Homo sapiens: one gene and its partners. The protein of the gene in region 3 purifies or fractionates together with the protein of the main gene of each other region. This does not show direct contact. Each region holds a gene or a part of one and is shown on either strand. Other genes may lie near its edges.

The links.
Region 1: the proteins of FOXJ1 (region 3) and CDK20 purify together in Homo sapiens (affinity purification with mass spectrometry; 4 studies listed by BioGRID and IntAct, with this or other methods). This does not show direct contact.
Region 2: the proteins of FOXJ1 (region 3) and FBXO11 purify together in Homo sapiens (affinity purification with mass spectrometry; 4 studies listed by BioGRID and IntAct, with this or other methods). This does not show direct contact.

Annotation. Positions count from the first base shown.
Region 1 is NC_000009.12:87,971,518-87,979,402, forward strand, and holds the start of CDK20 (cyclin-dependent kinase 20), read right to left. Parts: upstream 3,017-7,885; 5' UTR 2,930-3,016; coding exon 2,855-2,929; intron 2,723-2,854; exon of another isoform or gene 2,653-2,722; intron 2,558-2,652; coding exon of another isoform or gene 2,519-2,557; coding exon 2,405-2,518; intron 1-2,404. UniProt on the Homo sapiens protein: Required for high-level Shh responses in the developing neural tube.
Region 2 is NC_000002.12:47,896,483-47,903,503, forward strand, and holds part of FBXO11 (F-box only protein 11), read right to left. Parts: intron 1-7,021. UniProt on the Homo sapiens protein: Substrate recognition component of a SCF (SKP1-CUL1-F-box protein) E3 ubiquitin-protein ligase complex which mediates the ubiquitination and subsequent proteasomal degradation of target proteins, such as DTL/CDT2, BCL6, SNAI1 and PRDM1/BLIMP1.
Region 3 is NC_000017.11:76,138,229-76,145,748, reverse strand, and holds the start of FOXJ1 (forkhead box protein J1), read left to right. Parts: upstream 1-4,503; 5' UTR 4,504-4,635; exon of another isoform or gene 4,636-5,184; 5' UTR 5,185-5,353; coding exon 5,354-5,851; intron 5,852-7,520. Other genes in the region: E3 ubiquitin ligase RNF157, read left to right, coding at 396-514. UniProt on the Homo sapiens protein: Transcription factor specifically required for the formation of motile cilia. Acts by activating transcription of genes that mediate assembly of motile cilia, such as CFAP157.

The DNA of each region.
Region 1 (7,885 bases), on a different chromosome or scaffold from region 3:
TGAGATAAGGTGTGCCCCCACTCTAATTCTCCATGAACACTAAAAGGTCTAAAAAAGGTCATTTAGTGGCACCATCTGGTCCGCCCACCCAGCCTACCCGCCTGAAAATCATCTGGATGGTCACACATGAGATGGACAGGTCTCCTCCTGTTTCCTCTAGAACCACCGAATCCCAGCACCAAGGAAAGGACACCAGGAATCCCACCTTTCCCAGTGCTGGGACAGCTACAGACACATCACAAACACTGAGGCCAGTACTGTCAGAGGAGCCAGGCTACACAGAGAGTGAGCTGAGAGACAGGACTCTTAATGAACTCACAGCACAAAGGACAAACAGTTTAACAAATAAATGAATAAAAGGGATATATTCAGATTCTGTAAGTACAGGAACCAAAATACAAGGGGGCTGGGCATGACGTCTCATGCCCGTAATCCCAGTACTTTGAGAGGCCAAGGTGGGCGGATGGCTTGAACCCAGGTGTTTGAGACCAGCCTGGGCAACATGGTGAAACCTTGTCTCTACAAAAAATACAAAAAACTAGCCAGGCATGGTGACACGTGCCTGTAGTCCTAGCTACTTGGGAAGCTGAGGTGGGAGGATCACCTGAGCCCAGGAGGTTGAGACTACAGGGAGACAAAATCGCACTTCTACACTCCAGCCTGGGTGACAGAGTGAGACCCTGTATCAAAAAAAGAAAAAAAATCAACAGAACTAGAAGAGGATAGTGTGATTCTGTGAGTGGAGAAAAGGATACTTCTTTATTTAGGTGGGGTGGGGCTAGATGAGGACCCAGTTTGTGGGGATCTGGGATAAAGCTCTGAGCAGGAAGAAAAGCAAGTGCAAGGCCCTAACGCCAGCACAGAAGGAGGCTAGAGGGATGTGAGTACATGAGATTGTTTAAGGGAAGGATGTGTCTGCCTTGTTCTGTGCTCCTGGACCCTAGATAGGTGCTGGTCACTGGAGAGATGCCTAAGAAGTTGTGTTGAATGAGAGAAAAGGGAGAGGCCAGCTGGAGGTGGGCACATGGTGATAGTGCTCTAAGTGTGAAGAGAAGCCACCAGGGCTTTTTACGCAGGGGAGCCGATGACTTAACTTACACTTTTGACAAAGCCCTCCGGACTGTGGCTATGGAGAGCAGTGGGGAGGCTGCCACTGTCATTCTGATGAGTGGTGATGATGACTTGGGCAAGGAGCAAATCTAGAGTATGTTTTAAAGTTAGAACCTTCAGAATTGCTGACCAACTGGATGTAGGGACCATATCACCAGCTTCCTTATGGATCTCTCCACCTATCCCACACATGGCTGTCTGGAAGCCCTTTTATCTTCCTCAAAAAATCAAAATGGCCTGATTGCTGTTTTCGGATTTTTCAGGTAGTACACAACCATTTAACAGATCAAAACACATGCACACATTCAGGTAAGACATAAAATCCAACAGAAAAAGAACAAAAGAAAAATCCTACAGTCAATCTTAGAGTGTATTCTACCAGACTTTACAACAGATATGGCACACACAAATACACATTCACATATATAATATTTCCAAACAAAACCCAGATGACACAAAATTTTATAACATGCTTTTGTCATCCAATATATCATGCATATCTCCAGATCACAGAGACCCAACCCTGTTAACTCTCCAGGGAGTCAAATACATTCCCTATTTCGACATGGGTGAGAGAGAGCACCAAAAGAGTAATGACACTAGGGGTGAAAGATGCCCCTCTTCGTGTTCCAGCAGCCCCTCCCGGTACCCTATCACAGCACGAACCACACTAGGTGGGCCCTGTTGCCTCTGTCTCTTGTTAGCACACTTAAGTCCTCAGGAGCTGGGCTGGAGCTGGTTTCTCTGTGTCACCAGTGCCCAACACAGGGTAGAGCCTATGGGAGGTCCCAAGGGAAGAATGGACTCTCAATCAAACCTGGGCCAAACCCTCTACTGACTAACGGAGGGCCCAAGAGCTGGTGACATAACCTCCTCCTCTCACCTGAGAAACAGAGATCTGGAAACCTGCCTTGTACAGTAGTAAAGAGGTCTCAAAATGACAATGTATATAATGCCTGCAGAACACATCGGGAGCTCAATAGGTGCTAGTTACATTATAAATCACTACATGTTTTGAGAAAAAAAGTCGGTGAATGAATGAATACATTAAGAAATAAGTAGGCAAATGAGAGTGAATGTGTGAGAAATGAAAGAAATAGGTAAATAAAGGTGAACAAGTGGACAAAAAAGGGCAAAAGGGGGTAAGGAGGCAGATGAATGAGCAGTGTGTGTGAGTGACAGCGGGAGGAAATCCCTGAAAGCTGGTGAAGGCGTAGCTGGGAAAATGAAGGCACAAAGAAGTGGGAACGAGCGACTGAGGGTGAGAATACCATGCCCCCCCTCCCCTACTCACATACTGATTGTCCTCCATCTCCTGCAGAGCCTTAATCTCCCGCAGGGCCTGGTTAGGGAAGCCGTCCTCCAACCGCCTTAGGGCCACCTTCTTGAGGGCAACTATCTCGCCAGTCTGCAGGATAGAAGGCAGACACTGCCAGCCCACCCTCGGCTGGGAAAGAGAGATGAAGGTGGGTGAGGGGAAGGTGGTTGAGAGAGAGACACGCGCCCCCGGCTCGGCCAGAGGCCCTCCTCGGGGGTCTAGGACTAGCCTGGGACCCAGCCGCTGGGGTAGGGGACCAAGCCAGCTGTGCGGAGGGAAGCGCAACGGCCCAAAGTAGGTTTAGAATATGAGTAGGTTTTAAAAACTGTACTGGATGTAAAAAGGGAACCGAAACAGTTTAGAGCGTTAGCCGGAGGGTGGCGGGGGCACACCCCCGCCAGGCTGCCGGCCGCGGTCCAGCCTCACCTCCACGTGCTTGGCCTTGAAGACGATGCCGTGGGCGCCCTCCCCGATGCGGCCCAGGATGCAGTACTGGTCCATCCCGCTGCAGTCGTGGGCCTGTGCCCCTGTGCCCCTGAACTTCCAAACTCCACTTCTCCTCCACCCCACGCTGATCTGAGCTCGCACGCTGTTGCCTAGCAACAGCGCGGCAGCTGACCACTGGGGCGGTTCCTGTAGGCGACGTCACCAGGAGAACGGAAGCTGCGTCGAGTCAGGGGTGACAGCTCCGGGCCCCACTGCGCCTTTTCCTAGCCCTCCGCTGTCACGCAGCAGCAAGCTTAATCCCGCATAAAAAACGCATGCGCCGAGAGCGTGCCCGCAGCAGGGCCCACGGAACGATGACAGCAGGCACCTCCTATCTGCCCCCGCCCCCGGCGTCACGTGACTAGCTGCGCTGGTGCACGCAGCCGGGAGGGGCGGGCTCCTTCCCCTGGCAAGCCGGAAGCTCCGCACCTGTAAGTAGAGGTTCAGGCTTCGACCACGCGCAGGTGCTGTTTTCTAGCTCCGAAAGCCAGGCACTATTGATGCAGACAGACAGGTCCCGGGCTGCGTTGTGGAAAGAGGGTCTGTGGGTCCTCTTGTCTTAAAATGTCAGTTGGCTACGTGTACCCACAGATTTTTAAAAGGGCATACTCTGAGGGCCGGGCACGGTGGCTCACGCCTGTAATCCCAGCGCTTTGGGAGGCTGAGGCGGGCGGATCATCAGGTCAGGAGTTCGAGACCAGCCTGACCAACATGGTGAAACCCCGTCTCTATTGAAAATACAAAAAAAATTAGCCGGGCGTGGTGGCGTGCTCCTGTAATCCCAGCTACTCAGGAGGCTGAGGCAGAAGAATCGCTTGAACCCGGGAGGCAGAGGTTACAGTGAGCCGAGATTGCGCCACCGTACTCCAGCCTGGGTGACAGAGCGAGACTCTGTCTCAAAAACTAAAACTAAAAATAAAATAAAAGGGCATACTCTGACCCAGACAGGACAGAGTAGGCCTTAAACTTCTGAAAGGATGCTCAACTTCACATACAATAAACAAATGCAAACTAAAGTTACAGTTTTTCACATATTGGATGGCTAAAGATCTCAGGTCTAATAGTTCATTGACCAAGCTACGGGAAAACAAGCACTTTCATACATTGCTGGTGGCAGTATAATTTGACGATGTTGATCAAATCACAAATGCACAGACCCTCAGACTCAGCAAAGCCACTTCTAGCAATTTCCCCAATAGACACCTTTTACACATGTGAAATGACATGTACAAAGTTATTCCATTGCAACGTTGTTTCAACGGCAAACTATTGGAAACAACACAGATGTCCATCATTGTGGTGCCTCCTTCAAATGAGGTATTAAATCTTTTTATGTACAGCAATGGGAAGATTTCTAAAATAGGTTGTTAAATGAAAAAGGCAAGATGCAGGACAGAATGCATAGAGTACCACTGGCTGTGTAAACAAAAGGAGAAAAGAATATAAATAATGCTTGTACATCCATTACAAGATATCTGGAAAGATACACAAGATTTCCTGAGTGTGGTTACCTGGTGGAAGAGGGACTGGGAGGACAGGGGGACAGAATAGGAGGCAGACTTTTCACTGGGTCTCTTTACATTATTTGAGTTTTGAATATAATTTATTAATTTTCCAAAAAAGCAAATATTTTCTAGCTTAGAAATTTCACTTCTGGGTTAATAATTGCAGAAGAATGACTTGATGTCCATACAAAGTATTCCTCCTGTTTGATGATAGCAGAGATCTGAAAACAACCCAAATACCCAGATGGAAAAATGGCTAAGTTAAGTTAAGGGAGTGCCATAGAATGGAATAGTTTTTAGCATTAAAACTGGCGAAGATAGGCTGGGCATGGTGGCTCAGGCCTGTAATCCCAGCACTTTGGGAGGCCGAGTCCTACGGATCACTTGAGATCAGGAGTTTGAGACCAGCCTGGCCAACATGGCGAAACTCCCTGCCTGTACGAAAAATACAAAAATTAGCCGGGCATGGTGGCACTCGGCCTGTAGTCCCAGCTACTCAGGAGGCCGACGCGGGAGAATCGTTTGAATGGAGGAGGCGGAGGTTGCAGTGAGCCGAGATTGTGCCAAGGCACTCCACCCTGGGCGACAGAGCAAAACTTGGTCTCAAAAAAAACAAACAAAAAAAAAAAGATACAGTAGGGAAAGGATGGTCTTCACAAATAGTGCTGGGTCATTTGAGAAGTCATAAGGGGAAAATAATGTATATTGACCCCAGTCTCACACCATTCACAAAATTGATTCCAGATGGACTGCAATCTAAATATAAAAGGTAAATAATGAAGCTTTTAGAAGAAAATTATATCTTAATGGCTTTGGATTAATTCAAGATCCTTAGGTTACAGAATACACTAAAAGAAAAACAAAAATGAGAAATTGGCCTTCATCAATGCTAAGAATATCTATTCATCAAAAGATACCATTAGAGACCAGGCACAGTGGCTCACACCTGTAATCCCAACGCTTTAGGAGGCCAACATGGGAGAATCAGTTGAGGTCAGGAGTTCGTGACCAGCCCGGCCAACATGGTGAAACCCTGTCTCTGCTAAAAATACAAAAATTAGCCAGGCATGGTGGCATGCACCTGTCATCCCAGCTACTCAGGAGGCTGAGGCAGGAGAGTTGTTTGAATCCAGGAGGTGGAGGTTGCCGTGAACCAAGATCACGCCACTGCACTCAAGCCTGGGTGACAGAGTGAGACTCCATCTCAAATTAAAAAAAAAAAAAAAAAGATACCATTAGAGAGTGAACAAGAAAGCCACAGAAAGGCAAAAGAGAACTGTAATACATATATCTGACAAAGGACTCACATGTAGAATTTATAGAGAACTTTTATTATAACACTGAAGAAGAAGCAGACAATCTTACAAAAAAAAAATTAGAAAAACCTGGAATAGACACTTCGCAAAAGGTGATTCCTGAACAGCCAATAAATTTTGCAATATGTGTGTTTAACTTCCCTGACTAGAAGGGAATTTCATATTAAAACCACAACAGAGTGTTATTGTAATCACTAGAATAGTTTAAATGAAAAAGATAGATAATACCAAATGCTAGCAAAGAGCAACTTGAACTCTCATACACTGCTGCTAAGAGTGCAAGTTCATACAACCCCTTGGAAAAACTGGCACTTTTTTCCACAGGCACGTACCACCACGCCTGTAGAGGCAGGGTCTCTCTATGTTGCCCAGGCTGATCCTGGGCTTGAGGGATCCTCCCACTTTGGCCTCCCAGAGTACTGGACTTACAGGCCTGAGCCACCACACACGGCTCCACTTTGTCAAGTTTTACTAGCTAGTTTGAGGTTCAAGAAAAGTTTCAAAGCAAATGCCTTTTTATTGGACTAGTGACTTTTTTCTTTTTTTTCTTTTTTTTTTTTTTTTTGCCAAATCAATAACTGCATAATGACTTTTACATGACTAAATTTTACTTATCTTCCCACACATAAGACTGTCGTACAATTATCAAATGCTTTATGAAGCACCATTTTGTGCATAACATCACAGCACAAAGACTAGTATGATTATGGTAATGGGAGTTATTTCACTATTCTCTTCAAGAAATGGTAAAAGGAGACGATAATCTCAATTGATGCAGAAAAAGCATTTGACAAAATTCAACACTCTTTAATGAAGAAAGCACTCAACAAACTATAAATACAAGAAAACCACCTCAACATAATACAGGCCATGCAGGAAAAGCCCACAGTTAACATTACATTCAATGGTGAAAGATTGAAAGCTTTCCCTCTAAGATCAAGAACAAGTCAAGGATCCTCACTTTTGCCGCTTTTATTTTATATAATACTGGAAGTCCTAGCCAAAGCAATTAGAAAAATAAATAAATAAATACATAAATAGGCCGGGCACAGCGGCTCATGCCTGTAATCCCAGCACTTTGGGAGGCTGAGGCAGGTGGATTACCTGAGGTCAGGAGTTCAAGACCAGCCTGGCCAACATGGCGAAACCCCATTTCTACTGAAAATACAAAAATTAGCCGGGCATGGTGGCACGCACCTGTAGTCCCAGCTACTTGGGAGGCTGAGGCAAGAGAATCGCTTGAACCCGGGAGGCGGAGGTTGCAGTGAGCCGAGATCGCACCACTGCACTCCAGCCTGGGTGACAGAGTGAGACTCCGTCTAATAAATAAATAAATGAATGTAGGTAAATAAATAAATAGCATCCAAATTGGAAAGAAAAAACTATCTCTGTCTAGAGACAACATGATAATATATGTAGAAAATCCTAAATATGCCACAAAAAACTGTTAAAACTAATAAACAAGATAAACAGAGTAGCAAGATTCAAAATCAATATGCAAAAATCAATAGTTTCTATATACTAACAATGAGCACTCTGAAACAGAAATTAAGAAAATAATTCCATTTACAATAATATCAAAAAGAATAAAATACTTAGGAGTAAATAAGGAAGCAAAAGACTCATAGGTTGAAAACTAAAAAATGTTGCTGAAAGAAAGACACAAATAAATAGACATCTTGTGTTCATGGACTGAAGGACTTAATATTTTGAATATGTCAATACTACTGAAAACAATTTAAAGGTTTAATGGAATCTCCATGGGATTTCTTTTTTGCAGAATTAGAAAAAAAAATTATTCAGAAACCAATGTGGATTCTCAAGAGGCCCTAAATAGCCAAAACCAATCTTAAAAAAGGAGGAGGTCTTACTCGTCCAGATTTTAAAGCTTACCACAAGCTATAGTAATCAAAAAAGTGTGGTACTGACATAAAGGCAGACAGCCCAATGGAATAGAATGGAGAGCCTAGAAGTAAATCTTCACATACCTGATCAAATGATTTTTAAAAAAATTATGAAGACCATTCAATGGGGAAAGGACAGTCTCTTTAACTAATGATGGTGAGAAAGCTAGAGCTCTACATGCAAGAAAATGAAAAAATTGACCCCTTATATCATATGGAAAAACTAACTCAAAATGGATTAAAGAC
Region 2 (7,021 bases), on a different chromosome or scaffold from region 3:
CCACCCCACAGCTAACTTTGTATTTTCTGTAGAGACGGGGTTTCGCCATGTTGCCCAGGCAGGTCTCAAACTCCTGGGCTCAAGCGATCCACCCCACCCAGCCTCCCAAAAAGTGCTAGGATTACAGGCATGAGCCACTATGCCCCGCCCAATTGTTTAATTTCGCTTCCCTCTTTTACTTGGCCTAAAATACCAAAATTTGACAAGTTATCATAATCAGTCTCTTAAAAATGCAAATGTCTTTCAGAGAATTAATGAAGACATCAGTCATTCATATGTAAGTGTGAAGTAGTATAGTGGCTACTTTTATGTATTGCTGACCTTATATGAAATAAAGTGAGTGAGTCTATAATTTCCTTTACCATAAGAACACTTTGCTAAAAATACTAGCTTTCAAAATATAGTGCCTTACTCCAACTTCTATTTCTCTCAACAAATCTTCTTTGATATTTCTTCTTTACTATGATAGAAGTCTGGAAAGACTCCTACTTTTCATTTGTTAAATTTTATTCACTTCTAATTCCCTTTAAAGCTTGTTTTTTTCTTTTTTCAAAAAGTTATGACCAATTATGTGGGAAGAAACAATAACTAGTAACATACATACCAAAGTTGTCCATCTCAATATATAACAAGGGAATAAAAAATAGTTACATGCTCTTCCTCTTCCCCATCCCCTTTCCTACTAAGTGTTAGAATCTCATAAAGCCACATGTTCTTATATACAGTATGTTAATATACTATGAATGGAAGATAGAAAAATCAATGCTTGGATATAAAAAAGAATTATTGTATCTAAACCCAAGTAGAGTTGGCAAATCAGCAAAGGCTAAACTGATTCAAGTCAGTTGGTTACACTACAGTAACACAGACACCAATATCAAAGGTTAAACCCACACAGTGGCCAGTTAATTTCACACTAAAGAAAAACTTCTGGTCGGGTGAGGTGGCTCACGCCTGTAATCCCAGCATTTTGGGAGGCTTAGGCGGGCAGATCACTTTACATCATGAGTTTGAGATCAGCTTGGCCAACGTGGGGAAACCCCGTCTCTACTGAAAATACAAAAATCAGCCAGGCATGGTGGTGTGCACCTATAATCCCAGCTACTCAGGAGGCTGAGGCAGGAGAATCACTTGAACTCAGGAGGCAGAGGTTGCAGTGAGCCAAGATCACACCATTGCACTCCAGCCTGGGTGACAGAGTGAGACTGTGTCTTAAACCAAAAAAAAAAAAAAAAAAAAGGAAAAGAAAAAAGAAAAATTTCCAACAAAGATTTTGCCACAATTCAACTCAACCATCTGGAAAAGGAGTGTTGTTCACTAGGAAAAAAGAGTAAAAATGAGATTATCACTATTATCAGAAAAATAACTAAAAGTACATATTCTTACTCCATTTCTAGCCTTCAAATAATCTCTAAGTATGAGAAAATACAAAAGCTCTCTTCACACAAAAAAAAGGATGAATGACACCTCTTCTCTCATGAGATGTGAAAATATTCCTTAATGTTTTTTAAGGTTTAGTCACCACATGGAAGAAAACAATTTTCTCCCCTTTTTGAACATAGCCCCATGATCTTCATTTGTTAAAAAGAACAAAACATTTAACAACGGGGTTTTTAGAAACTGGGAGAGCAAGCAATTAACATACTGAACTCACACTTGCTTTAACATGCTATCTTATTCGGGGTGTTTAAAAAACGTTTTAAATGCAATTAATGCATTCATTTTCAAAGGAAAATAAACATTTTTGATATTTGCCTTCAACTGAAATAAATCATGTAAAGGAAGTTAGTTGGTTTCATTTCTCTATTTTCTAAGGATTAAGTTTAAGCACATTTTTTATGCTAACCAAACATATATAAAAACTCCAAGCTACACATATAAGAAACACACCAAACCATGGTGAGAAAAGAATATTTAGTCCACAAACCAGTCAAAATTACCACTGAAATCTAAAACTAATTTAACGCACATTTTTCTCCTTCTGAAATAGTCCAGCCTACAACCATGAGCTAAAATCAGTTAATACCCTTTATTCATAACTTATGAGTAATTCAGGGGAAATCTACCCTTCTTTGTATAATGAGTGCTTAATGATCTCATCAACACACTGGAAAAACATGCTGGTCAATCAGTAGAGTCTCATCTTGAGACAAATCTACATGAGAGGTAAAATTATAATCAGAAGATTACTTGAAAAATGTGAAACCAGATAAGTCAACAATCAATAGCATCAGACTAGTGCAGCCATCTCCAATAGGACAGATGGTATAGAACAGGGGACAGATCTGCTTCAAGGGGCAGGTTATTGCATCCCCTGAAAGTTATACAAACATTCTGCCAAATGTATTTTGGTATCTTTCCTTGTTTATAGAAAGATTAGGTGATATAAATCAATTTTGAAATTTTTTTGCTACTTACTATGCATCTTCATTGTTGTATAGCTGAGCCTCTACTTCTTCATTTATTAAAAAAAAAAAGTAATAAAATCTCTTACAGAATTGGTATAAGGGGGCCAGGCACGGTGGCTCATGCCTGTAATCCCAGCACTTTGGGAGGCCGAGGCGGGCGGATCACGAGGTCAGGAGATCGAGACCATCCTGGCTAACATGGTGAAACCCGGTCTCTACTAAAAATACAAAAAATTAGCCGGGCGTGGTGGTGGGCACCTGTAGTCCCAGCTACTCAGGAGGCTGAGGCAGGAGAATGGTGTGAACCCGGGAGGCGGAGCTTGCGGTGAGCCGAAATCGCGCCACTGTACTCCAGCCTGGGCGACAGAGCAAGACTCCGTCTCAAAAAAAAAAAAAAAAAAAAGAATTGGTATAAGCTTCAACAAATCAGTTTCTCTGAGGTTGTAACAAGTCATACAGATTGAATTTTATCTCTTGGGTTTAATTTTATATACAGCTGATACAATCCCTTACTTTTTATATTTAAAAGACCTATCATTTATTAAATATCTATCATGTGCTAGGAACTTTACTATCTCTCATCCTTACAAATGTTCTATAAGGCAGGTGTGATTCCCACTTGAAAGATCACAAAGTAAGGCTCAGAGAGGTAACATTGCTCACCAAATGTTAAATAACTAATCAGATGTGTAGTCAGGATTAGAACCCATATCTAGCTAGCTTTAACTCTGAGCTCTTTACATCATACTGTCTCATTCCTTATAGTGTATCTTCATAATTTTATTTTCACAGGGTAGCAACTACAATTTGGGGAATACTTTGCCAACAAAGTCACATACTATAATTCTGTGGAAGATAAGAATATATTTCAAAGGTCTGATAAATCAGTGAATTGGAAGGTCTAAAACAGAGTAATACTTCAAAGATAAGTGGGACAAGACAGAAACAAAATAAGAGTAACTTTAATATCAGGGATAAATAGGGGGACAATAAAAGACCTCATGTTGAAATAGCTCATTACTGTAAACTGGTTATTTTCAAAGTTAAAACAAACGGTGGGGGGCGGGGGGACTTGAGAAAATACTCAAACTAGGGGTTCTCACTAACAGATCAGGAACTACTTGTGGTTCCTGCCTTACCTAGTAGGTCTCCAAGCTGGTTGGCCTTCTCTTGGGTTTGTCAGAATTTCCAGTAAAGGGAGAAAAGCAGGATAAGAGCTCTTAGGCCTTATCAGCAGAGCTCTTAGGCCTCATCAGCACAACTTTAACACTAATAGCAACACTACTCTGTTTCTATCCCTCAAGTAAGTTCCAAGCTTTAAGAAAATAGGCTCTTTTTACAGCTCCCATACTTCCTGCCTCCAAAAGGTTGAGTGGCACTGTCTCCTCTCATGGGATACATTTGGAAGGGTTAGCCACCAGATGACAGAGTAGTACCCCACAGTACTTACTTCCTAAAACAGGAAAAATCATGTTTCTTGTGCAGAACTCCTCTATTAAGACTGCACAGGATCCATGAAGTTAAAATATCACATGCTAGAACAATGCCACAGAAAGTATAACTAGCATTCCTGACTAGAACAGCAAGGAGTGTCTCCTGGCTGCTGCATATTATAAATATACAGCTCATTCCTCATCAGTACAGTGTCGAGAAAAAAGTATATACACGTATATATACACACGTATACACACATATATACGTATATACACACGTATACACACGTATATACACACGTATACACACACGTACGTATATACACACGTATACACACACGTACGTATATACACACGTATACACACACGTATACACACACGTGTATATATATACACGTATACACACACGTGTATATATATACACGTATACACACACGTGTATATATATACACGTATACACACACGTGTATATATATACACGTATACACACACGTGTATATATATACACGTATACACACACGTGTATATATATACACGTATACACACACACGTGTATATATATACACGTATATATACACACATATATATGTATATATATACACGTATTTATGGAATTGCAGGGTTTTTAAAAATTGAAATCATTCAGTACGTATAATATTACATAAAATATTGCCGGTGGGGAGATATATATATTTATGTATATATATACACACGTGTGTACATATATACACATATATATGTATATATATACACACGTGTGTACATATATATACATATATATGTATATATGTACACACGTGTGTACATGTATATATATACACACGTGTGTACATATATACATATATATGTATATATATGTGGGTACATATATATGTGTGTCATAGATAAGATTTTTATCCCACAAATATGGGATTAGAGAGACTAGGTTTTTATTCTACAAGATTAGCTCAGAGTAGAAATGAATAGCAAAATCTATTAATGCATTCATTAAATTTCTTGAACTATAAATATCACAATTAGATTTTCAGCACTTCAAAACAGTCCTGTGACTTTTCCAATAACTAGAAAAAAAATACATCTATTTTCAAAAACTCCCATGTCAAGATTATTTCCAGAACCCAAATTCATCTTTTATTAAAAGGTAATAAATGAGAAACTAATAACAGTTATTAGATTCCAGGTAGAAGAATTTAGTAGCTGGAGGCTGATGTACGAAGGGGACTTCTGAATTTTAAACTGTGGCAATATTACCTATTCAAAGTAATTAATTTTATTTTATTTATTATTTATTTTTTGAGATGGAGTCTCATTCTGTCACCCAGGCTGGAGTGCAGTGGTGCAATCTCAGTTCAAAGTAATTAATTTTAACAACTAAAATCTACTGATGAGAACACACAGCACTTCTGTAGACTTGTAAGCTTTCCTCATACTTTGTAATATCTAAAAAAATTACAAAATACATTCCTGCAGTAAAGACAATAAATTCATCAGAACGGGCTGCAAAAGCTAACTCCTTCTAGAATTTTAAAACAAAACAAATATCAAAAATCCAATCCCACACTACTGTTTCATTAAATCATGGACTATATTACCGAATTGTCACTGCGTAAAATACAGTTTTTATTTTTGAGACCGAGTCTTGCACTGTGTCACCTGGGCTGGAGTGCAATGGTGTGATCTCAGCTCACTACAACCTCAGCCTCCCGCGTTCAAGCGATTCTCCTGCCTCAGCCTCCAGAGTAGCTGGGATTACAGGCGTGAGCCGCCATGCCTGGCTCATTTTTGTATTTCTAGTTAAGACGAGGTTTCACTACGTTGGCCAGGCTGGTCTTGAACTCCTGACCTCGTGGTCCACCTGCCTCGACCTCCCAAAGTGCTGGGATTACAGGCGTGAGCCATTGCTCTGGGCCTGTAAAATACAATTCTACTAGTACATGAAATCCCAATCTCAGGAATTTAAGAAATTAAAAAAGCTAATGATTAGGCTAGTATTTAGTCTTAGGATAGCTGATCATTTCAGCTAACGAGTGAACACAATAGTCCATGAAATACCCAGACCAATATTTCCTTACGTGGGGTGTAAGAAATGCTCCCCCATGGAAAGCTTTGAAAAATCCTCAAAGATTTTAATCTATAGGGTCTAGTTTCTTTCTTCTTCAAACACTGGCCATTACAGATAAGACAAAGCGTATATACACACACACATAATGTATGTACAAACATGTATATACACAAATATACCCACATACACACACACATACACATACACACGTGTGTATGTAAATATATTTAAAAGTGGTGTCAAGGAAGTTTTTATACCAATTAACCTGTGGGCAATGAAGCAGCTAAAGACCATTCTGACAGACTTTTTGCCTGAAAACATATTATACTGTAACTATTTTATTACCACTAAAGAACCTGAAATGCATCTTTATATAAAACAAATGATTTTATATACAGTCTGAACTAGTTTGTCTCAAAACAGCGAGTCTCACTTTGATTCCCTATCTGGAAAGTTGTCTGATCCACTATTAAGTAACTCTATCCAAGATCCTAATGCAAATGTTACATATCCATTAAGAGTTAGTAAAAGGTTAAAAAAAAAAAAACAAAAACCACACATACATTCTTAGCTTTAGTTCTTTAATTATCCTGTAATAATTAAACCCAGCATATTCCTAAACTAGCAACAACAAAATCCCTTTCTTTCCAAACTAGAAAGTGACACTTTGCGTGCTCCATAAAACTTTCGAAATAGAGTATTCTTAGTTAACTTCTGATCATTATATGAATCGGACATTTAAAAAAACGTAATTAAAATGTCAATTTTTCAAAGAATAACATATTTTTCCATATGGCTGGCAACATCTTTATTATTTTAGTTAACGAATTCATCTTAATGTTTTATTCATTTTAAGGCCATTTATGTGCCCTCTTTAAGACTCACACTATTTTCCCTAAAGTTCTTTTCCTCTCTGCTCTGTGCCAACACAGAATCTCCAAAACAGTTTGTACTAGCTGCAGAGAAGCAACAATTCTACAGTAAATTTCATTTACCATTTGGTTGGGTACATACTGAAATTTGGATTCATGAATATTGACAGTTTATAGACATCAATGAGAAGAAAATTGACACTGGCATGTGACTGCCAACAACCAAGTCACCTTACCTCACATAGA
Region 3 (7,520 bases):
CTTCCTGCCCCAATGAAAATAGCTCAGCAAGGCCCAATTTCCTTTTCCTGTCTATTGTAACATATAGGCAAACTTTAAAACCAAGTAATTAAAATACAAAAGTGGATCCCAGGGTAAGTTCGCAAAACAAGGAACATCTTTCATGTCCCTCCCTGTCCGGGAGCCACAGTGGCAGTGACTGTACCTAGCCCAGGGGGCAGGAGCAGGCTCTGCACCTGTCAGCACCTGCTTCTCTCCGTTCTCACACACGAGTGCTGTGGCTCGCACCGTCATCGGAGTCTCAGGTGACACGCATCCTGCTCCTTCCGTGCCGGCTCCTGGGCTGCCCTGCTGGAGACACCATCTGGATTTGGCCAAAGGTCTGGCTCCTGTAATGTTCATTTTCTCTTCCCCAGGTGCCTGGCAGGCTGATGACAATGCCGTCAGTCGGAATGCCCAGCGCCGGCGCTTGTCATCCAGCAGCCTGGAGGACTCTGAGACGAGGCCCTGTGTGTGGGGCCCTTTGGCTGTCTGAGCCCCAGCCTCTGCACTTGGGCTCCCCTCCTGCCCTGCATTCCATCCATCCTCACTCAGCTGCTGCCTACTGGGCATCCTCAGCAAGATGCTGGAGACTTTTTACCCTCCTGTGACAGCTGTTACAACCTGTAACCACAATCCCTCACCTCTCAGAGGGAACTGGAACCCTCCTTTCTCCGTGTGACCTAAAGCCACTCAATGAACTGCAGCTCACGAGACCTTTTGCAGGGACTCTGGAATGTCCTCACGGTATATTGATGTTCAGGTGGAGCTGGGGTCCATGGGCTAATTTCTTACACATCTTTTTTCTCCTTAGGGGGTAGAACAAGAAGGCTTAGAGTTTGGCAGCTTTGTTACAAACATCCCTCTGGCATTTCCTGGTCTCTGGCACATCATAACCAATTGGAAACCTGCAGTTTGGGGTAGGGCTGGAGGATCGCTCCTGTGGAAAGGGAGAGCCATACTGCACGGACGTAGCGTTTCCCTCTACAAGCACTAGGAGCACCTTTCTCAAGGACAAGAAATGGTAGCAACCAAAAGGTTGGTTGAAGGAAACAATCCTTCCTTCTGGTGGCAGAGCCAGTCTTCTGGGCCTCACATGCCTGTGCGGTTAAGAAGGAGCTCTTGGCCGGGCGCGGTGGCTCACGCCTGTAATCCCAGCACTTTGGGAGGCCGAGGCGGGTGGATCATGAGATCAGGAGATCGAGACCATCCTGGCTAACACGGCGAAACCCCGTCTCTACTAAAAATACAAAAAATTAGCTGGGCATGGTTGCAGGCGCCTGTAGTCCCAGCTACTTGGGAGGCTGAGGCAGGAGAATGGCCTGAACCCGGGAGGCGGAGCTTGCAGTGAGCCGAGATCGCGCCAATGCACTCCAGCCTGGGCGACAGAGAAAAAAAAAAAAAAAGAAGGAGCCCTTGAATCTGAGAATCCCCCAGTTAAGATGATTTCCCTTAAGGAGCATTTCTCCTGATCAGGTGCATTCAGGGAGGCCTGCAACTCCATCCTAAGGTGACATTTCAAGAAACACATGTGTTGACCACCTCTGTGTGCCAAGCACTGGGTGAGGAGTGGTCGTATATTACCATAATTCATCCTCACTCAATTGGGAGGTGGCATTCTTGTCCCTGTTGCCCCCATCTCTACCCCCTTTTGTTAATGGTTGAGAGAAATGTGGACCAGTGATTCTCAGTTTGGTGCCCAGGTCCCCAAAGGAAGTGATGGAGAGCCTTGAGCTAAGTTCAGGCAGCAGCATGTGGCCAGCAGCAGTGTGCTGGGAGCAGAGGTTGGAATCAGGGCTCAGGGCCTTCACTTCAAGGGCCCTCCCCAGCTACTCGGGAGGCTGAGGCAGGAGAATCGCTTGAACTCAGGAGGTGGAGGTTGCGGTGAGCCAAGATCGTGCCACTGCACTCCAGCCTGGGCTACAAGATTGAAAAGATCGAAACTCTGTCTCAAACAAAAAAAAAAAAATTCAAGGCTGTTTCCAAGGCAGCCTCAAAAAGAGCCTGGTGCCCAGGGGGTCCTTCGTTTCTGTGTGGCTGCAGAGGCCAGGAGTGCAGTGACTGTCTCACTGCCTAGTGGTTGTGGCTCACATCCTGCCCTGATGGAGAGGGGGGCCTGTCGTCCAACCCTCTCTGAAAAACTGCAGTAGACTTTACCATTTCAGGCCCCACCTAATGTTCTTTCCTTCCTTCCCCCTACATTCTTCCCGCCCCTTTCATAGTTAAGATGCATAAGCTGAGCAATAACCCCACTTCCTGATTTCCCTGAAATATGAGCCCAGAAGCAGCAGGTGACAGGGAGCTTCCCTTACCCTGGGGTGGTGGCACACAGACCACCTCCTGTCCTGTCCCCTGCAGGTAGTATTCACAGTGTGGTGTTACCTGGGAGGAGGGAGGAAGGAGCTGAGATGAAGGAGATTCAGGTAAACAGTAGCCACAGTGGCCAGGACCCCCTTCCTGAGGATCCCTGTCCTTCCTCGCAGCAGGTGCTTAGTCCTCTCCTAGGGAGAAGCACGGAAAGATTCCTCAAGGCCTCAGTCCCATGTCCAAGGCATACCTAGGTTAGAAATGTCCTTTACTTGTTTCTCAGTTACTATTTCTCCTCTTCCTCCCTCCCCCTGCCTTCTCTTGGCTGTCATTTAGCTCTCTGGCCCACAGAAATACTCCATCCAAGGAGCTGGTCCTCAGTCAGCCTGATGAGGACAGGTCAGTGGCCAACCCTTTTGCCCCAGTCCTTCATCTGGAGACAGTCACATAGTCACGTCAACAGTTCACCCAAAGAGAAGAGGTGGGGCCTGGCTTCTCCCACAGGGCACAGCCTAACTATGGAGACCCAGGGCTCCTTCCTGCTGCACTAGGCCTGTGCTCTCCCTATTGCCTTCAGGTGGTGTGATCCCGGCTTCCTCACAGAGCCCTTTTTTCCTTCTGCCCAGCTCCATCCCACCAGAGTTTCTACCCCCGCTGAGGCATCTCCTGGGCACAGACCACCACACTCTAAGCCGGCTGGCCTGGGAGTTAGGGTCCTGCCCACCTCACCTGGGAGTTGGGGTCCTGCCCACCTGGAGTTTAGCACGCTGGTCGCTCACTTTGCTTTGGTCTGCACACCTGGTGTGTGCATGTGTATACTGCTTGTGCCATCTGTGTACCCCTCTCCCTGGAGTACACTTGTGGTCACACTACAGTGGGGACATCAAGAATGCAATATTTATGGATTGCTGCATGATTCTTAAAAATGAATAAAACTGTTTACAAGGGAAGGAGAGCTAACTGCAAAGTGAGCTTATCTGTGAAAGTTTCTGTCTGACTTTCGCCAGCACTCTTTAATACTTTTACTCAAGAGGATCTGGAGTTGGAGGAGTGGGAGAGGCAAGGGCTAGGGAAAGGCATGTTGGCGGGGGAGTGATGCGCCATAGCCGGGCCTTCTTCATGGTCTGGGCACCAGCCTCCCCGACCCCGGCTCTCCAGCTCCTGGGCAGAGGCGGGGTAATCAACCCAGCCCCCACCACTGCCTCTGCAGCCGCCTTAAACCGGAGAACGTCCAACCCTGCAGCTCCTCAATAATTAAAGAGCAGGAAAGCTGGTGACAGGAGGGAGGCCAGGGGAAGGGAGGAGGAAGGGACACAGTCCCCAGAGTCCCTCTACTCTTAATCCCTGTGACTTAAAGGTTGGTGAAATTAATTGGGCAAATGACCCCGCTAGGAGAATTTGACAAGTCCATGACTTCAGAGTTTTACCCACGGGCTCTGCTTCATCAGCTGTCTCCAGAGGAGTGAGTGCGCTTCTGCAGAAGCCTCTGGAATGTCAGCTTCCTGGAACCTCGAGGATACGGGTGGGGAAGGAGCTGCTTACTGGGACACACTGGATTACCCTACCCCCTTGGTGTGTCTGCCGCCTCTGTGGATGTAAGCGGCAGGTGGCATCGGAAAGTCAGACCTGCCTGGGACACCAGAGAAAGACCCTAAGAGTCGGGGGAGAGGGAAAGGCTGCAGAAACATGAGAAAGTGCCACTCGTAGCGGAGAGGAAAGAAAACCTCAAGGATACGGTTCCCGAGCCTGAGCCCGCTCCCAGCCTTAGCCCCCCAACCCCAGGCTCCGTCCCAGGAGCAGTCGACGCCTCAAAGCGTACGGGACAGGAAGGGGGTGGGGGCGAGAGTCTTGGTTCCCCAGAACGAACGGATCCATAGCGGTTCCCGGTGCCGCAGGCCGCGCGCTTCTCCGACCCCAGCGCGGGGCCCTCGGGCGGGAATGAGCCGAGCCGGGACTTAGCGGCGGGTAGGGGGTTGGGTGGCGCGGGAGAGGGCGGCAGAAGGAGGGAGTTCGAAGAGAGTTGCCGCCAGGGAGAGTGGCAAGTGCCCGCGGTCTCCTTGGAGACGTGCTGGCCAATGGCAGAGGCGGAAGCTGTTTATGGGGGCGGAGCGTCGCCATGGCAGCAGGAGAAGCCTTTGGAGCGGCTACTTAATGCCGGTCCCGGGGCCGCGGTAGCTCAGAGAAGCGCCGTCGGGCGGGGGGGCGGCAAGAGGCGCTGGCAGGGCCCCCGAGCTGGGGGCAGAGAGCCGCAGGGGGTGGGAGCAACTTCTTCCAGAACCTTCCTCTGGCCCGGGCTGCGCTCTGAGCCAGGTAAGGGATGGGGAGGGCTGCAGGCCAGGGGGAAGGGTGGGCAACGGTACCAACCCGCTCTCTCATTCGTCCTTAACGGAAGTGGTGGGCCCAGGGACTGACATCGGAGAAGTCTGGGGGAAACTCGCCTCCTGCCCCCCGTTACTGTTCCGTCCCCTTCCTTCCCAATGATCCCCTATCATAATATTCCTTTTCAAGGATCAGAGGACCTCCACCGCCCCCGCCCCGTCGTACCGCCCTCCCAAACTTCTCGCCCCACTTCCATTTGTTGCGAGGAGGAAGGGGGTCCTGATTTCCTGCTCTTCGGGAGAAAAGGATAGCCTCGGATGCCCCTACCCTCTTCATTTGGCTAATAAAACCTCGAAGAGGAAAGGAAGAGGGAGGCAGATCTGATGGGGGTGGGACCCCAGGGCCTTGCTTCTGTTTCCCATACCTCGGCACTAAAAGATCCTCCCCAGCTGCGGGGATGATGTTAGAGAGGGCGTCCCCGTACACACACTGTCCCCTCGGGGGTGGGGTAGTGCTCAGCTCCCACCGTGGTCCTCGCAGGCACCACATACTTATTCGGAGGAGGCGCCCCCGGGGTCGCGAGATGGAAGCGCGCGTCCGGGAGGCCGTGTAACGGGAGCTGCGGGACTCAGCGGGCCAGAGAGCGCGGCGGGCCACCCCCGGCTCAGCCCGTGGATGCTGACCGCCCCCTCGGAGAGTCCCCGCAGACATGGCGGAGAGCTGGCTGCGCCTCTCGGGAGCCGGGCCGGCGGAGGAGGCCGGGCCGGAGGGCGGCCTGGAGGAGCCCGACGCCCTGGATGACAGCCTGACCAGCCTGCAGTGGCTGCAGGAATTCTCCATTCTCAACGCCAAGGCCCCCGCCCTGCCCCCGGGGGGCACCGACCCCCACGGCTACCACCAGGTGCCAGGTTCAGCGGCGCCCGGGTCCCCCCTGGCGGCCGACCCCGCCTGCCTGGGGCAGCCACACACGCCGGGCAAGCCCACGTCGTCGTGCACGTCGCGGAGCGCGCCCCCGGGGCTGCAGGCCCCACCCCCCGACGACGTGGACTACGCCACCAATCCGCACGTGAAGCCTCCCTACTCGTATGCCACGCTCATCTGCATGGCCATGCAGGCCAGCAAGGCCACCAAGATCACCCTGTCGGCCATCTACAAGTGGATCACGGACAACTTCTGCTACTTCCGCCACGCAGATCCCACCTGGCAGGTAGAGGAGGCACGGGCGGCGGCCGCTCCCTCCCCATTCCCTCCTCGCTCCCCACGCTGCACTGGATTCATATCCCAAATCTGCAGGCCAAGTAGGCTCTGCGGTGCGGCCAGCGCCCCAGAAGGGAGCCCTGCAAAGGAGCCCAGTTCTTGCAACTGCCCCTCCTTTGACTTCCAGAGAGAGAGAGAGAGAGAAGGGAGAATGTCCAGAGGTGGAGGGCTTTAGGGGTGCAGAGGCTGAGATTCAAGGGGAAATAACCTGCCATTCATCCAGCAGGCCCAGGCCAAAGACCAGGGCTAGACTCTGCGTGGACAGAATCTCCTTGGGGAGAGCGATGAACTGAAGGCGCATTCTTGTCCCAAGTCCTAGAATTCCTAGACACTGCCCTGCCCCGGGATGGTTTGTCGGGGCCGGGAGTCAGAAACGGAAACTGGAACGTGGCCTCCCTGCCAGGCTCTACGTCCTGCCCTTTTGCAGTTGGCTTGGGGAGGGTGGAATGGAAGGGGTGCCTTAGCATGTGAGGGCCAGGTGTGTCCCAATGGAGGGTGGAGGGGGTAAGGGGCCTTCCTAAAGCTGCTGTCCCAGCCCCCCACCTCAACCTCTGCTCAGTTTCCTGCCTCCAACCCCCGCTGTCAGCCAACCTCCCTGGGGGGACAATTACCTGAGCCAGGTGCCTTCCACTGGGGCTCTGCCTACCACACTCACTTCGTGTTCCACGTCTCTGGAACCAGGCACTGAGCAGCCAAGGGGCCCAGGCCACCATGTAAACATCCCAGCCTTGCTGCCGGGCATTATCCACCCACCTGCCCTGCCGTCCCAGCCCAGGACCCCTGTCCCCCAGCAGGCTTTGGACAAGATTAAGCACCTAAGAATGGACAAGGCAGGAGGATGGTGGATTTGAGGCTGGGTAGGCAGTGCCCTAAGAGTCTTCAGCCATCACCATCAAGGGCTAGTTGGAGTCAGGGGCCCCCCAAGGACGCCCAGACTCTTCCCTGAAGCACCCAAAGCGGGCAGGCCACAGGACCGCAGTCCCAAGCCATTTCCAATGCCCCTGACCCTAGAGCAGGGTCATTTGCAGCTGCACCGAAAAAGCAGAGACCCTCAGCCCCACCCTACCCTAAGCCTGTGCAGCTGCGCTTCGAGAAACGGGCCCCAGGAATGAGTGCTATGCTCTTAGCTCTTGGCTGGGTAATAATCAACTGAGCCTGGAGTGGGGGGAGGGGGCCGTGGGGGGTGAAGGCCCAGGCCAGCAGCCGGCTCAACAAACAAGGAAAGTCATCAGATCCCCCACCTCTCATCCCTGCGCGCTCTCTCTCTCTCTCCCCCTTCCTCTCCACTCTCGGCTGCCCAGCCCCCTCCCTGGACCCACTCACTCACAGAGAGGGCCAGCCAGGCCCAGGCAAAGGGAGACGGTGGTCCAGGCCCTGGGGGAGCCGAGGGCTTTGGCCAGAGGCTGTCAGCGGCAGGGTGAGGGAGGGAGGGCAGGCGACGGGGGTGGCACCGAGAGCCACCCTGCGGCTCAGAGCTCGGATGACTGAGCAGGCAGATATCCCGGCAACAGGGAACAAAAGCCTCCGACAGCACTCCGGGCTCCCAGTGCCCTGTGGCTGGTGTCCCAGAGCTGCAGCCGCCTGGGCAGACCAGTGTGTCTGTCCCCCCCTCCTCTCCC